Linked DNA regions of Homo sapiens. Changing the gene in region 2 together with the main gene of any one other region gives a genetic interaction. Each region holds a gene or a part of one and is shown on either strand. Other genes may lie near its edges.

Region 1 (2,448 bases), on a different chromosome or scaffold from region 2:
AGAGGGAACCAGGCTGCCGGCCCAGTGCCCAGCTGCTCCCCATCCCTCACACCCTGGCCCTGGAGCCCTTGGCCACATGCCCCATCCCAGGACCGCCTAGTTGTGAGAGAAGCCCCCGTGGGAGAAGGCAGGGAGGTCGGGGGCACAGGCAGCAGCCTGGGGCAGGCAAGCTAGGGGGTTGACCTCGCAGGCCCCAGCATCCTGGTCCCCTCGGAAGTAGATGGAGTCGGCAGAGTAGAAGGAGGGGTCTTCGTCAAAGAAGTTATAGGGTCGGAGGAAGAAGCCCACGCCGTTCCCCACAGTCACTGTGTTAGGAATGTCCTCTGCATGTGGGATATGCAGAAAACCAGCTGTCACCCAGGCCACCAAATCCTAGCAGGGGAGAAGAAAGAGGATCACGAGGTCTGGCTTTGCTGAGGACATGCCCTGGTAGGGATTCAGCTCACCAGCCCAAGGATCATGAGTCTTTAAACATTTTTTCCTGCTGGGTAGGAGTCAAAGCATAAGTAGTCCATTTCATATTAGGAACACCTGCTTCCCTGTCCCTGGCTTGCAGCCTCCATCTCTGACATTTCCCATCATATCGCCCATTGCCTATCTACCCCCAGAGGGTGACACCCACAGGCTACTTCAGCTCCTCTTCCCCTAACTCTCCAAGAGTTCCCCACAACTGAGGAAAGAAGGGTGGAGGAAAAAGAACCAGCGCTTGGGAAGCAGAACCAGGCCAACATTGTGAAATTCATCAAGTCAGGAATGGGAGAAGCTTCAGATACAGGAGATGTCATTTTCCCTGGTAACTTCCATCCCTCCTGAGTCCTGGAGCCTGGAAAGGACTCAGTCCATGAAACTGGAACTAAGAGGGCTCTAAGATCTCAAGGACAGGCCCAGGGCCTCACTCAGTGTCTGCATATGGACACCCAGCTCAGGAAGGTTCCCTCAAAGGATAATGATCAGATATACTGAAGTGCAGAAGGCAGGAATCAGCACCACCCCTGAGAAGTGCAGGTGGTTTTCAGGGACCCTCCCAAGAGAAAGCAAGGCTCATCCTGTACCCTCTACCCCGGCCAGCTGACCTTTCCAGCAATGGTCTCATTGTTGATGAAGTCACTGAAATCCACAGTGGGGGCCCAAGGGTCATTCTGATTGAAAACGCTGCTGCTACTGGGCTCCTCCTCCTTCCGCTGGGTCACAGCCAGCTGGTACCTAGGGAGGCACTGGTCAGGCCTCCATGGCCATTGACCCCATCCTGCTGCCTGATTATGATGAAAGGGAACTGAGTGCTCAGAGCTCAGCTTCCCCAATTGCAGTCACACAACTGACTCGGCGCTACAGAATCCCCGACGTCACCCTAAGGGGGGTCAAGTCCTCCTGTTTATCCCCAGCCATTTAACAGTACAACCCCTCTCCCATCCAAAACAGAAGAGAGTTCTCACTCCTGGGCTTTAGCCTCCAAGGGGAAAATGTGCCCATCATGGTTTCTTTGGATAACTAGAAAAACCTTTGGCCAGGCATTGTGGCTCATGCCTGTAATCACAGCACTTTGGGAGACCAAGGAGGGTGGATCATGAGGTCAGGAGTTCGAGACCAGCCTGGCCAACATGGTGAAACCCTATCTCTACTAAAAATACAAAAATTAGCCATGTGTGGTGGCGTGCACCTGTAATCCCAGCTACTGGGGAGGCTGAGGCAGGAGAATCGCTTGAAACTGGGAGGCGGAGGATGCAGTGAGATTGCTCCACTGCACTCCGGCCTGGGCAACAGAGCAAAACTCCATCTCAAAAAAAAAAAAAAAAAAGGAAAAGAAAAGCCTTCCTGAGAGAGCTCTCCCCTCACCTACAGTGTGAGCTGAGTGTCCGCCAACACTCCTTTCCCACTCTCACTGCCCCCCTCCTCTCTGACTGCCCGCCACTCACCTCTCCCAGCTGAAGCCTCTCGCCATGGAGCTGTTTTGGGGCAGCGGCTCTCCAGCAAAGCTGAGCATCTGGATGCGGTAGCCCCGGGGGTGACCCCACTTGTTGCTGTGGTTGCTGGCCAGGTACAGGTAGCGAGGGGTGGCGCTTCCCACGAGGAAGGCGGCCTGCTCCTCCATCTCCAGCAGCTTCCGGGTCACCTGCAGCCTCTGCAGCTGGTGCTCAGGGCTCCAGGGCACAGCCATGGGGACAAAGACCATATCCTCGGCCCAGACCCAGTTCTCCAGTCCTGCTCAGGGTGGGATAGGGGAGGGCCTGTCAGGCAACTGCCCTGGCCCCTCTGGACTCTGCCCCCATCTGGCTTCAGAGTGGGGGCCAAAGAGCAGCCCAGAACTGAGTGTGCCCCTCCTTCTCTTCCCTCTCCCCAGGATACCTCCAATCCTTTAGCCAAAGCTGTTGACCTGTAAATTAAAATACTTCATCAGGGAGTTCATTCCATTTCACTCATTCATTCTTTCAACATTCATTAGCAGAGAGG
Region 2 (5,568 bases):
CTAGAGGGGAAGCCCTCAGGCATCCTGTGTCTTTGCTCCTGTTGTTACCTTCATAGATCTCATCACAATTTGCAGTGTTTTCTCCCATCTGTCTATGTGCTTGTTTATCATCTGTCAGCCCTGGGGAATGTGAGTTCCTTATCTGTCCTGTTCACCACTGTATCACCAGCACCTAGGTTGGGGGGCCACACAGCAGGCACTTAATAAGTATTTGTCACGTATATAAAGATGAGAAAACTGAAGCTCAGAGAGGTTAAGTGACTTGGCCAAGATCACGCAGCTGGTAAGGGATAGAGCCAGAATCGAGGCAAAGTCTGACTCTATCTTAACTGCTCTAGGCTGAAAGATGATGAGGCTTATACATGGGGCCAGCAGCTGACTTGGGAAGGTCCCACACCTGGCCTCTGGGCATCGAGGCTGCTGCTTTGCACTGGCTCAGCCTCCAGAATTCCTCCACTTCCTGCTGGTCCCTTCACCCTGAGACTCAGGATGGAGGGGCGCTAAGACTGTGGGCTCGCTTAGATAGTCCCAGTTTCTGATCCCGATGCTGCCCACCTCTATGCCATGACATATGGGCAAATTATTTCACTTCTCTGAGCTTTAGTTTCCTCTGAGAAAAATGCTTACCTTATGGGGTGGTGCATGGATTAACTGAGATAATCTGTGTAAGCACTTCGCTGTGGCCTACAGTAAGTGCTTGGTAAATGTTAGTACTTCTATTTTTGGCTTGGGGAGGGGCTCAGAGTCTCTGAAGACTGTTGGTTTTGAGTCCTCCTCTGATCCCCTTCCCAGTGGGACTTCTGAAGGGTCCCACCTCTGACCTTTCACTGTCTAAAGCTAGGCTGGACCCAAACAAATATAGCTCCCTCCGCCTGGCTCAAAGGCCTCCTTTGTCCTCTGGGGACAATGTTCCTAACATGTCCTGGGTCTCGGTAACCGTCCTGCCCTGATTTGATGAATGTGTCACTAATTATTATATCCAGAGTGGCCTAAATTTGGGCTGCCTCTCCTCCTTCCTCCTCCAGTGCAGGGGCTGCAGCTATAATGGGAACAGGCCCTCTGGGAGAGGTGCCCTGCAGTCTGGCTGGAGACCCTCTTGGAGTGCACACTCGTCTCATCTAGACTGAGCCACAGGGAGCTTGCCTAGGGCTCAGGAGAGAAGCCGTGTCTGCCCAGGACAGTCAGAGAGGGGCAGGGTCTCTCTTCAGAGCATTGTGCCCCAAAGAGGGACCCAGACCAGTGGAAGCATGCCCAGGGAAGGTGCCCAGGATGAGGCTGGCCTGAAAATCACACTCCGGGAGGACCGTGGCAGGGGTGGGTACACCCTGCAGGGGACTTAGCAGCTACAACAAAGCTGCTGGAGTCCGTCTAGGGCTCTTCCAAGCTGGAGGTTTGGTCTCTGTGTGGTTCCAAATGGCAGAACTGAGGTTCAGGGCAAAGCCCCTCCAGCAGGGAAGAGTGTTCCCCAGTGGTGCAAGGGGCTACCCCATGGGAAGTGAGTTTGCTGTCACTGAAGAACAAAAAGCAGAGGTTTGATGGACATCTGGCAGGGTCACCCTAGAAGGGGCTGCTGAGGAAGCAGGAGCTGGATAGAGTGACCTTTTGGCACCAGACTCCCAAGGTCACAGGATCAGGGGTTAGAAGGCCAGAATTCCCCCGCCCTAGCTAAGGACAATTGAACTGCATGTTCTTGGGCAAATTGCTTGAACTCTTAGGCCTTAGTTTCCTGCTCTGCAAAATGGAGACAATATGAACTACCAGCCACTGATACCATGAGGATCAGCAGCGGAGATCCATGAAGTCCCTGCTGAAGGAGCAAGGCTGTGCAGCTGGTGCCAGTCCTAGACTCTGCAATCTCCTTCAGGTAAAAGAAAGGAGAACTGCACGGGCCTAGAGTCTGGTTTTTCTTCTCCCCTGGCCTGCCAGAGATGCAGGAACAAGACTAAGAATGCATCTGTATACCAGGCCCCGTGCTATCTCATTTCATATCCTCACCAACCCTTTGCAGAGGTTGCTATGGCAACCCCCATTGTGAAGAATCTGAGGCTCAGGAAGGTCATGCTACTAAAGGCTGCATGGCTGGAAAGTGGCCTGGTTGAGATTTGGACCCAGCCTGCCTTCTTCCCCACCCACCGTAGCCAGTCATGACAGTATAACTGCAGCTCACCCATCCTGGCACAAAGCATGTGGGCTGGGAGTTGGAAGAGCAGGGGCCCAAACACAGACGCTCTACCTTCCTGAGCTCTGCTTCCTCATCTGAACAGTGGGGAAAATAATCTCACCCACCCCACCTTCCAGCCTAACACAGAGAAATTAAAGCGATTCTGATAATGTCCAGCTCTGCAGGATTAGGGACGTGCAGAGGAGAGAGGGGCTCCCGGGGTGAGCCACACCCACGGTGGGTTGCTCACCTTCAGGTCCCGGTGCACCACCCCCATCTGGTGGCAGTGCAGCACAGCCTCCAGGATCTGCTGGATACAGTGACTAGGGAGAGAGAGAGGAAGGGGTCATGGTGGTGTGAGCACAGGCCTCCCCTGGGAAGCTGACAGCAGGCAAGAGTGCCCTGTCCCCGGGTGCCATTGCCAGGCAGCACCTGACACTCACCTGGCATCCGCCTCACTGTAATACTCCCGGGCCACGATATCTTCAAACAGTTCCCCACCAGTGACCCTGGGGAGACAGGCATGGAATCACCCTCTAATAGAGGCGACAGGTGCTGCCTCATCTGGAGGAGTCTCCAGGAAACTAAGGATGGGGCCCAGGGACCTCAGGACCTCAGCCACAAAAGGAGGGGCCCCAGGGTCACGGGGGTGTCCCCTGCTGCAATGCCCTTCCTGTCTTCCAGAGCACCCTTCCATTGACTCCAGTCCCCTCTCCTCCTCCATCCCCGGCCCTTCTTCCCCACCTAACCCAGGCTGGAGTCCGGAGGTTAGGGAAAGTCAGAGCACATCACTAGGCTCATTAGGAAGCCTATGGCCTCCCCCATGATCAATATCTCAAAGGCTATTTTTTATCGATGAGACTGGCCCCATCACTGATTTTCATTGCCATACCAGGAACTACTGTGGCCTATCATTTCATTATTGCTTCTCTTTGAATCAACACTCCTCAAAAAAAAATTAAACATATTCCAGAAGGAAACTTTATATTGCCACTGAAAATGGAAAACCAGCATCACTGGCCACAAATAGAAGAGAAGCAAAAATAAATATAGGATGAAAGCTAAAAGTGTTTGTTGGTGTTTTAGGAAAGTCAGCTTGCACTGCTTGGGTGGCAGGCCCACCACATTTGGGGAAACTCTGGACCACAAGAGGGAATTCAGCCCAAGAGGTCCAGTGAGGCCATCACTGGTTAGGCAGCCCCAACACCGTTGGCGCATCCCAGGGCGGGGCCAAACTCACAGGTCGAAGATCAGGTAGTGGTGTCCCTCCTCTGAGATGCTGTCATGTAGTCGGACTGTGGGCGGGGCAAGGCAGTTGGTTACAGTGGGACACACTGCTGCACAGGCCCGCCCTCCCTCTCTCCCCTCCCGTGTATATCCAACACCCCCCGCTCCCAGACAGTCACTGAGTATACACCAGGTGCCAGGTGCTTTGACAAGCGCTGGTGAACAAGGGCTCACTGCATTGAGTCCGAATAGACCTCAGGCATTACTGAAAGAGGGCTGGGCTTCAACATGAAAGATGCCTGTTTAGGTCAGAGTTTAGCGCCCTCCCCTCTCCGAAACCCTGTTTGGTTGCTGGGCAGGCCCAAGTCATGGAAAGCCTGTGACTCCAATCTCTGCCACTTACTAGCCGTGTGACTTCTGGCAAGTTGCTAGGCCTTTCTGAGCCTCTCTTTCCTTGCCTGGACAATGAGAATGAAACTCCTGGACTTGCAGGCTTGTTATGAGAGTTCCAGGAGGCATGCAGTTGGTGCTCACTCAGTGCTGCCTGAGCTAATATCCTGCTCTGCTCCCAAGTCTGAGGAGATAATGGAGCATGGAGGCCAGAGGCAGGAGTGAAAGGGTCCCTGCGTTCTGGCATGCTGAGGAGCTGTCATCTCTTCACACCCCATTTACCCAGAACAGAGGCAAAGCTCCCAGGAGCCCAGGGCTCCCAGCATGCACCCCTGAGCTATTAGAAGGAAGGGCCTGAGTCCTGGGGCTGACTCTGGGACCACATCCTGTCAGTCAAGAGCAAGTCTCACAGGACAGGGCTCACATCCTTCCCCGCACCACAGCCTAAAAATGTCCATGCAGGGGCGTGCTGGCTCAGTGAATGACGATTCATCCGCACAATGGAAAATGGCACAGCTGCTAAAATAATGCGGCAGTTATGTATCTACTGGTTCAGAGTCATCTCCAAATTATGTTGCTTGGTGAAAAAGCAAAGTGCAAAACAGTATGCGTAGTACTTTTTTAAAGGATGTATTTAAGTTTATATATGGCATAAGTCTCTCTGGAAGAATACAGACAAGCAGGCACTGAGGGTGCCTCTGGGGAGGGGAATTGGGGGAGTTGGGTCATGAGAGGAGACTCACTTTTCACTATGAATCCTAGTGCCATCTGAATGTTTGCCATGTGCATATATTTCTGGCTCAATATTGAGTCCCCTGAATTGTTTATGGCTGTCGTATTTGCACATAAAATTTGGAGAGAGGCAGGCATCAGATACCCCAGAGCTGATGCCAGTAGGGAGAGGTGGATGGGCACCAGAGATGGAGAGGGAAGGGGCACAGATTAAAATGAAAATTTAGGCTGGGAGCGGTGGCTCACGCTTGTAATCCCAGCACTTTGGGAGGCCGAAGCAGGTGGATCGCCTGAGGTCAGGCGTTTGAGACCAGCCTGGCCAACATGGTGAAACCCCATCTCTACTAAAAATACAAAAATTAGCTGGGTGTGGTGGCCCATGCTTATAATCCCAGCTACTCCAGAGGCTGAGGCAGGATAATTGCTTGAGCCCAGGAGGTGGAGTTTGCAGTGAGCCGAGATCGTGCCACTGCACTACAGCCTGAGCGACAAAGCAACACTCCATCTCAAAAAAATAAAAACTAAAATAAAATAAGATAAAATAAAATAAAATAAAATAAAAATTTAGGCCAGGTGCGGTGGCTCACCCTGTAATCCCAGCACTATGGGAGGCTGAGGTGGGTGGATCACTTGAGCTCAGCAGTTCAAGACCAACCTGGGCAACATGATGAAACCCCATCTCTACAAACAATACAAAAATTAGTTGGGCATGGTGGCACAGGCATTTGTCGTCCCAGCTATTTGGGAAGCTAAGGTGGGAGGGTTGTTTGAGCCCAGGGGGCGGAGGGTGCAGTGAGCCAAGATTGCCCCACTGCATTCCAGCCTAGATAATAGAGTGAGAATGTCTCAAAATAATCACAATAATAATAAAATGAAATTTTAAAACATTCTTTAATGATGATATATATTTATAAATAATAACTAAAAGATGTTTTAAATATATTCTAAAGCAAAATCTTAAAGGCACATGTAATTCTGCTTTAATTCCTTTCAACATTTTTTTATAAAAAATTCAGGCCGGGCACGGTGGCTCATGCCTGTAATCCCAGCACTTTGGG
Region 3 (3,735 bases), on a different chromosome or scaffold from region 2:
AGCTCCCCTTCTCTCCCCGCTCCCGTGCTCCCTTGGCAGGCGGAAGAAGCTCCGTTTCCACCCTCGGCAGTTGTACCTGTCCGTGAAGCAGGGCGAGCTGCAGAAGGTGATCCTGATGCTGTGTGAGTGCCACCCATTCCTTCAGCAGACCTTGACCAAGCTTCATGTATATACCAGGCACTGGGTACAGGGCCAGGAGTACAGTCGTGAAGGACACAGTCCTTGCCCTGAAGGACTTAGTGTGGTGGGGAAAAGACACATGTAACCCATAACGATGGGGATGTGGTGACTCATAGGTGCTGGGTCCTGTTCTGAGTGCTTATACCTGTTAGCCTTGGCTTGCACAGAGAGGTTAGGGACCTTGCACAGTGCACAGTGGTACTGAGAAGCAAGGCAGGGTTTGAATTCAGGCAGAGCTGATGCCTTTGACTCCTTATTCTGATAAATGCTGTGGTGGAGGCAAGCTCGGAGAATGCCAGGAGGGGCCCTGATCCAGCTTGGGGCCCTGAGAAGCCTTCCTGAAAGAAGTGCCACCTGCCCCCTAGCTTGCTTACCACTTGTCCCTCCCTCTCCCGGTGTGGCGGGCTCTCCCCGCAGTGGACAACCTGGACCCCAACTTCCAGAGCGACCAGCAGAGCAAGCGCACGCCCCTGCATGCAGCCGCCCAGAAGGGCTCCGTGGAGATCTGCCATGTGCTGCTGCAGGTCAGCACGGGCCCGGCCCCATGCCTCATTCACCAGGCCCTTAGGCCCCTCCCCTGCCCCATGCCTCCCTGGTGCCAGCCCTCCTGCCCCCTCACAGGCTGGAGCCAACATAAATGCAGTGGACAAACAGCAGCGGACGCCACTGATGGAGGCCGTGGTGAACAACCACCTGGAGGTAGCCCGTTACATGGTGCAGCGTGGTGGCTGTGTCTATAGCAAGGTGTGCGCGCAGGCAGCAGGGCGTGGCCCCCGGAGTCAGGGACCAGGTTTGGGGTGCCAGCCCAAAGGCTCATTTGCCCGTGTCTCCCTCAGGAGGAGGACGGTTCCACCTGCCTCCACCACGCAGCCAAAATCGGGAACTTGGAGATGGTCAGCCTGCTGCTGAGCACAGGACAGGTGGACGTCAACGCCCAGGTCAGCGGCCCACCCAGCCCAGCCCCTCTGGGTCCCTGGTGCCTGGGTTCCTTGGCTTGGCCTCAGGCTTTGGGCCGCCTTTCCTACATCTGACCTCACACTGCTCGTGTCTGTCCTCATTGCTTTCTTCTTCCTCATTTGTATTTCTCTTCATTCTTTTCTTTCTCGTTTCTTTCTCTTTATCAAGTTTCAGAATAATCAGTTCCTGTCTTAATCTCTGAAAGTGTCCAGTGAGGCTTTTTATTAACTCTTGGGTTGTCATACATTGGATGTGTTTTAGTCATTTATTGGCATTCTTCTCAGTCTTTGAATTATTCCATCATTGTCCAGAAGAAGCCCCTTTAAGAGGCCTCTGTGGCTGTGACATGACCCAGTGGCCCAGTGGCCTTTGAGAGCCTCCTGACCTTTCAGCACATTTCCTGCCCCCAACTCAGAATCCACCATTTCTCTAAGAAACTCTGCTTCCTTTATGGGAAACTTTTTTTTTTTTTTTTGAGACGGAGTCTCACTCTGTTGCCCAGGCTGGAGTGCAATGGCGTGATCACAGCTTACTGCAAGCTCCGCCTCCCAGGTTCACGCCATTCTCCTGCCTCAGCCTCCCGAGTAGCTGGGATTACAGGCGCCCACCACCATGCCCGGCTAATTTTTGTATTTTTAGTAGAGACGGGGTTTCACCATATTGGCCAGGCTGATCTTGAACTCCTGACCTCGTGAGCCACAGCGCCCGGCCAGAAGCATTTTTTAGAGAATACAATCTATGTTCCTAGGAGTGTTTATTGTTATTGGGTTGTCGCTGCTTCTAGGACTTTTGAGTGGGCAGACTTAGGAAATTTTTGTTCGTTTTTTCTTTTAAGAGACAGGGTCTTGCTATGTCACCCAGGCTGAAGTACAGTAGCAGTTCACAGACAGTCATAGCTCTCTGCAGCCTCGAAATCCTGGGCTCAAGCAACCCTCCCATCTCAGTCACATGAGTAGCTGGGACTACAGGCATGCACCTCCATGACCAGCTCCTGGCTGTATTTTTTGGAAAGAGAACAATTACTTTATTTTCTCTCTGGCATCAGATGGTAGACGCTACTAGTCCCATTTTTGTTTGTTTGTTTTTTGAGACGGAGTCTTGCTCTGTCGCCCAGGCTGGAGTGCAGTGGCACGATCTTGGCTCACTGCAAGCTCCGCCTCCCGGGTTCACGCCATTCTGCCTCAGCCTCCCTAGTAGCTGGGACTACAGGCGCCTGCCACCACGCCCAGCTAATTTTTTCTATTTTTTAGTAGAGACAGGGTTTCACCGTGTTGGCCACAATGGCCTCCATCTCCTGACCTCGTGATCCGCCCGCCTCGGCCTCCCAAAGTGCTGGGATTACAGGCATGAGCCACCGCGCCCGACCCTACTAGTCCCATTTTTTAGATGAAGAAACTGCGACCCAGAGACGTTAAGTGACTTACCCAGGGTCCCACAGCTTGTGAATGGTGGAGCTGGGATTCACACACACAGCCAATCTTGACCATTTGCTGCTTTGGTGAGCAGGGCCAGCTGCCCCCACCCTCACTCCCTTCCCACCCACAGGACAGTGGGGGGTGGACGCCCATCATCTGGGCTGCAGAGCACAAGCACATCGAGGTGATCCGCATGCTACTGACGCGGGGCGCCGACGTCACCCTCACTGACAACGTGAGTGAGCGTTTGGTTGAGGTAGGGCAGCCCCAGGCCCCTGAGCAAGGTGGAGGCTGGATTCAAGGGCCCAGCTGCCTGCACCTCATCTGTTCCCCTCCTACCTCCACAGGAGGAGAACATCTGCCTGCACTGGGCCTCCTTCACGGGCAGCGCCGCCATCGCCGAAGTCCTTCTGAATGCGCGCTGTGACCTCCATGCTGTCAACTACCATGGGGACACCCCCCTGCACATCGCAGCTCGGGAGAGCTACCATGACTGCGTGCTGTGAGCCCCTGCCCCGCCCTTGATGCCCCTGCCCCCACTTCTTGCAGCCTCAGACCCTGCATTGGGCATCCTGTCCCCTCTTCAGGTTATTCCTGTCACGTGGGGCCAACCCTGAGCTGCGGAACAAAGAGGGGGACACAGCATGGGACCTGACTCCCGAGCGCTCCGACGTGTGGTTTGCGCTTCAACTCAACCGCAAGCTCCGACTTGGGGTGGGAAATCGGGCCATCCGCACAGAGAAGATCATCTGCCGGTGAGCCCTGGGCCCCTCTCTGCACCCAAGACCACCTCCTCCCCACCCATACCCTCCCCAGGCTCCATTGCATCCTCACAACATTCCCCAACCCCTCCCCATGCACCACTGAATCCCCAGAACCACCCACAGGCCCCCTCCCCACTAGGGTTGCCAGATACAGCAAATAAAAATAGAAGACACCCAGTTAAACTGGAATTTCAGATGCACAGATGCATACTTTTTTAGTGTGAGAATGTCCTGTGTAATTTTTGGGACATACTAAAAAGCTATTTCTTGTTTATCTAAAATTCTATGTTAACTCGCTGTCCTGCATCTTACCTGGCAACCTTACTCCCCTGCCCCCAGCCCCAGGAACCTCCCCAACTCTCTTCCTTATACCTGGAGTAGCTCCTCACCCCCTTTTCCAGCTTCCCAGCCCCTTCTTC
Region 4 (3,735 bases), on a different chromosome or scaffold from region 2:
TGAGAACTTGGAATCTTGCAAGCACTGGGAGTGGACTCCGGCGGCGGCGCAGACGTGGAGCAGGGAGCGTCCTCGGGCCACCTGTGGACAGGGAGGGGCGCTCAGACTGGACCCACCTCCCAGCGACCCACAGGCGGGACCCAGGAGCCCACACCTGGCTAGCAGATCCCGCCCACCACACCTGGCTCAGGAGTTCCCGCCCACCCACCCACCACACCTGGCTCAGGAGGAGCTCCCGCCCACCGCACCTGCCTCAGGAAGAGTTCCTCTGGCGGACGTTCTTGCCTTTGTCATTCTGGTGCTGCCCGCTGCTCTTCCTGGGGCACGAGGGGCCGGGTGAGAGGGTGTCCCCCGCAAGTCACTCTCTCCAAGTCACCCCTGCCCACCCCGGCCCCCAGGACCCCCGAATACTGAAGCCCAGGGGCTCTGCCTTTGTGTTTTAAAGGCCTGGGGCAGCAGGCCGCTCCTTGGGACCCCCGACCCCCACAGCTGGAACTTACAGGGGTGCAGAGCCGGCGTCGTCATCTGAAGAAGGACCGCCGCCATGAAAAAGAGGACGAGAGGACAGCCTGTCAGCACTGGCCCCACTCAGGCCCCGAGCAGGGGCATCTGTGCTGCCAGCCCTGCCCTCAGTGACCCCCAGGGGTGGCTCGGGGCAGCTCATCAGCCCCGGCCACGTGCATCTTCTGAGTGCTGTGGGGAAAGGCAGCCCTCCCCACCTGCAGGTGTGCTCCCCATGGTGAGCTGTCCCCATGGCCTCGTGGGCCTCACCCCTGCCCCACAGCGTTTTCCAGGAGCTGCCATCACAGGCCCCACACAGGCCTCGCCCCGGCACACGCAGCCCAAGGGGCAGAAGGGCTCCGCGAGGAGGCAGGCAGGGGCTGCCGGAGCACAGCATGGCTGACCTCAGGTTCCCGAGCCTGATCATGCAGAGCAGCAAGGGCCGGCTCACCACGGAGGACACTGGCTTGCAGCCAAGTGAGCGGGAGGGAAGGGCCGGGTGAGGCTGTGGGGCGGAGGTGCCGCCTCCTCCTCCCGGGGTCCCGCTGCCCACTGAGCCGCAGCTGCCCGGGGCTAGACCCTCCATCCCACACTTTCTTTCGGGGTCCCATCAACTCCCTGCCTGGGGCTCCTCAGTTCCAAGCTCTGGGTCAGCGGTGGGGCTGGCAGGGACGGACCAGGAGTGGCCCTGGGCCACCCCGAGAGCAGGGCATGTGGGCAGGAGGGCAGACGGCTCACCATCCAGGACGTCCTCGGGCTTCCGGCGCTTCTCGTAGATGAAGATGATGGTGACCAGCACCAGCACCTCAGCCACGATGCCCAGGAAGGGCCAGAGGGCGGCCAGGTGGCTGCGCACGCGGAGCGTGATGATGGCCTGGTCGGAGCCCTTGGAGCTGGTGCCGTTGCACCGGTACTGGCCGGGGTCGGCCTCCATGTTCAGGTTCTCAATGTGTAGCTCTGACCGGCCCTGCGAGGAACTCACGAAGAACCTGCTCTCGGAGCCGTTCATGAGGGCCTAGGGGACCAAAGGCAAGGGCTGAGTCCAGGACCCCCAGTCTAGGCCCCTCACCCAGTCCTGAGGGCTGAGTCCGGGACCCCCAGTCTAGGCCCCTCACCCAGTCCGGAGGGCTGAGTCCGGGACCCCCAGTCTAGGCCCCTCACCCAGTCCGGAGGGCTGGGTCCGGGACCCCCAGTCTAGGCCCCTCACCCAGTCCTGAGGGCTGGGTCCGGGACCCCCAGTCTAGGCCCCTCACCCAGTCTGGAGGGCTGCAGTCCAGAGGGCTGGGTCCGGGACCCCCAGTCTAGGCCCCTCACCCAGTCCGGAGGGCTGGGTCCGGGACCCCCAGTCTAGGCCCCTCACCCAGTCCGGAGGGCTGGGTCCGGGACCCCCAGTCTAGGCCCCTCACCCAGTCCTGAGGGCTGGGTCCGGGACCCCCAGTCTAGGCCCCTCACCCAGTCCTGAGGGCTGGGTCCGGGACCCCCAGTCTAGGCCTCTCACCCAGTCCTGAGGGCTGGGTCCAGGACCCCCAGCCTCCTTGGCTTCTCACCTTGTCCTCAGAGTCAGTGATCTTGTACCAGGCCCAGTCAGTGACAGGTGGCACGGACTCTGACTTGCAGACCAGCATGGCCGTCTCCCCCTCGTTGATGTGTTCTGACGACTTCACAGCCTTCACTCTGGGAGGCCCTGACAGGAGGGTGAGAGAGAGGAGCCTGGAACCGCAGGCCCGCCCCCATCCCCGGCCTCCCGCAGGAGGGCTGTTCCCCTCCAGGGAGCAGGGGGCCAGGGCTCTGGGATGTGCCGGGTGCCTCAGGCCAACAACTTCTCCCGACAGTCGGTGGTGCCCGGTACCCCTGGCTGCAGGACTCACCGTGGAGCTGGATGTTGGCCGTGCCCATGGGCTCGGGGAGGAAGACGCAGGAGTACTCTCCCCACTGGTCGTCGGAGTCCACCCTGCAACCACAGCAGGCAGGTGAGCCGCGTACCAGCTCTGCAGGACGCCTCCAAGGACCCAGGGTTCTCCAGGGGCCCAACCACGGCACAGTGAAAAAGCAAAACTGTCCCAGTCAAGTCTGAACCTCAAAAGAACTCCTGGGGTCCCCGTGCGGCCCCAAGGACAGAGCCAGGCTGGCAAGACCCCACAGGTGAGAGAACCAACAGACCCCCTTCTCCCCGACTGATGAACCCCACACCTCTGGTCCCTGCTCTGCACCCCACACCCTGTGACCGTCTTCCCAGTCAGCCTGAAAACAAAAGGCTCTGTGCTCCCAGGGCCGTCCCAGCCCCAGTTATGACAAAGCTCCGGCCATGACAGCGTCTGGGGTCCGAGCAGGGCATGCCTCAGTGTGGTGCCCTCTTGTGCCAGGAGCACAGAGCCTGGGAGGCCCGCACACGTGCCCGGGACCTGGCAGTGTGGCGCCCTTTCGTGCCCGGGACCTAGTGAGGAGCAAGCAATGGGGACTCCTGCCAGGGCTGCTGGAGCCCCCTGCCTCACAAGGACGCCCCTCAGACCCCTCCCTGGGGTTTCCCTCTGGGGGTCTGCGCGGAGCTGGTCCCTAACTTCCGCCTGGATCAAGCCTGCCGACCGGTCTTTTGTTCTCACGGACCACAGGCCGCTGGCGGCAAGAGAGCCGTGAGAAGGGGCAGGTGGCGGCATGGCGTGGTCAGGCACTCACTTGAACTCCGTTTTCTGGCCGGGCAGCGCGTCCTCCTTCAGCACCACGCCCCCCTTCAGCCAGCGGTGCCCTGTGACCTCTGTGGCGCTGTCATTCAAGGAGCAGGTGAGGAGTATCTTGGAGCCAAGGTCTTCTACGGTAGTGAAGACTGTGCCGGCTGCAAGGCCCGGCGAGACGCGGTCAGCAGAGTGGAGGAGCACGGCCCGCGCTGCCTGCCTGACCCCCAGGAACCTGCGGCTCCTCCCCGGGAAGGACTGGTTTTCATCCCAAAAATACACCGTGGCCCTTACGCCCCGAGGACCGGAGGCCCAAGGGGAACTTCTGGCCACGCCTCCGGGAAGGGAAGAGCCCAGCGCCTGCTGAGGAGGCCCCTTCGGGAAGGCACCCCCTTCGGGAAGGCACCCTTCGCTGGCAGCTGGCGGGCCCTGGGCTAAGGCGCTGGGAACCCAGAGGCCCCGCCTGGCGATGTTCCTGCCCAGAGACACACGAGGCTGGGACCAGGGTGTGGGGACAGACAAGGCACCCACCCACGTCCCTGAGCAGGGACCAGGGCATCGAGCT

What was found. Genes that interact genetically often act in the same process or in processes that back each other up.
Region 1: changes in CAMK2A (region 2) and AOC3 together harm fitness more than expected from each alone (negative genetic interaction), as found in Homo sapiens cells (one large-scale study listed by BioGRID).
Region 3: changes in CAMK2A (region 2) and EHMT2 together harm fitness less than expected from each alone (positive genetic interaction), as found in Homo sapiens cells (one large-scale study listed by BioGRID).
Region 4: changes in CAMK2A (region 2) and BSG together harm fitness less than expected from each alone (positive genetic interaction), as found in Homo sapiens cells (one large-scale study listed by BioGRID).

The regions. Positions count from the first base shown.
Region 1 is NC_000017.11:42,854,199-42,856,646, reverse strand, and holds part of AOC3 (amine oxidase [copper-containing] 3), read right to left. Parts: exon of another isoform or gene 2,200-2,448; coding exon 1,914-2,199; intron 1,254-1,913; coding exon of another isoform or gene 1,204-1,253; coding exon 1,074-1,203; intron 373-1,073; coding exon 97-372; 3' UTR 1-96. UniProt on the Homo sapiens protein: Catalyzes the oxidative deamination of primary amines to the corresponding aldehydes with the concomitant production of hydrogen peroxide and ammonia. Has a preference for the primary monoamines methylamine and benzylamine.
Region 2 is NC_000005.10:150,254,162-150,259,729, forward strand, and holds part of CAMK2A (calcium/calmodulin-dependent protein kinase type II subunit alpha), read right to left. Parts: intron 3,457-5,568; coding exon 3,402-3,456; intron 2,671-3,401; coding exon 2,605-2,670; intron 2,485-2,604; coding exon 2,412-2,484; intron 1-2,411. UniProt on the Homo sapiens protein: Calcium/calmodulin-dependent protein kinase that functions autonomously after Ca(2+)/calmodulin-binding and autophosphorylation, and is involved in various processes, such as synaptic plasticity, neurotransmitter release and long-term potentiation.
Region 3 is NC_000006.12:31,883,964-31,887,698, reverse strand, and holds part of EHMT2 (histone-lysine N-methyltransferase EHMT2), read left to right. Parts: intron 1-39; coding exon 40-122; intron 123-597; coding exon 598-704; intron 705-801; coding exon 802-924; intron 925-1,016; coding exon 1,017-1,118; intron 1,119-2,643; coding exon of another isoform or gene 2,644-2,682; coding exon 2,683-2,787; coding exon of another isoform or gene 2,788-2,808; intron 2,809-2,899; coding exon 2,900-3,054; intron 3,055-3,139; coding exon 3,140-3,307; intron 3,308-3,494; exon of another isoform or gene 3,495-3,735. UniProt on the Homo sapiens protein: Histone methyltransferase that specifically mono- and dimethylates 'Lys-9' of histone H3 (H3K9me1 and H3K9me2, respectively) in euchromatin.
Region 4 is NC_000019.10:579,096-582,830, reverse strand, and holds part of BSG (basigin isoform 1 precursor), read right to left. Parts: intron 3,332-3,735; coding exon 3,175-3,331; intron 2,453-3,174; coding exon 2,370-2,452; intron 2,186-2,369; coding exon 2,049-2,185; intron 1,517-2,048; coding exon 1,240-1,516; intron 526-1,239; coding exon 501-525; intron 318-500; coding exon 254-317; 3' UTR 249-253; intron 82-248; 3' UTR 1-81.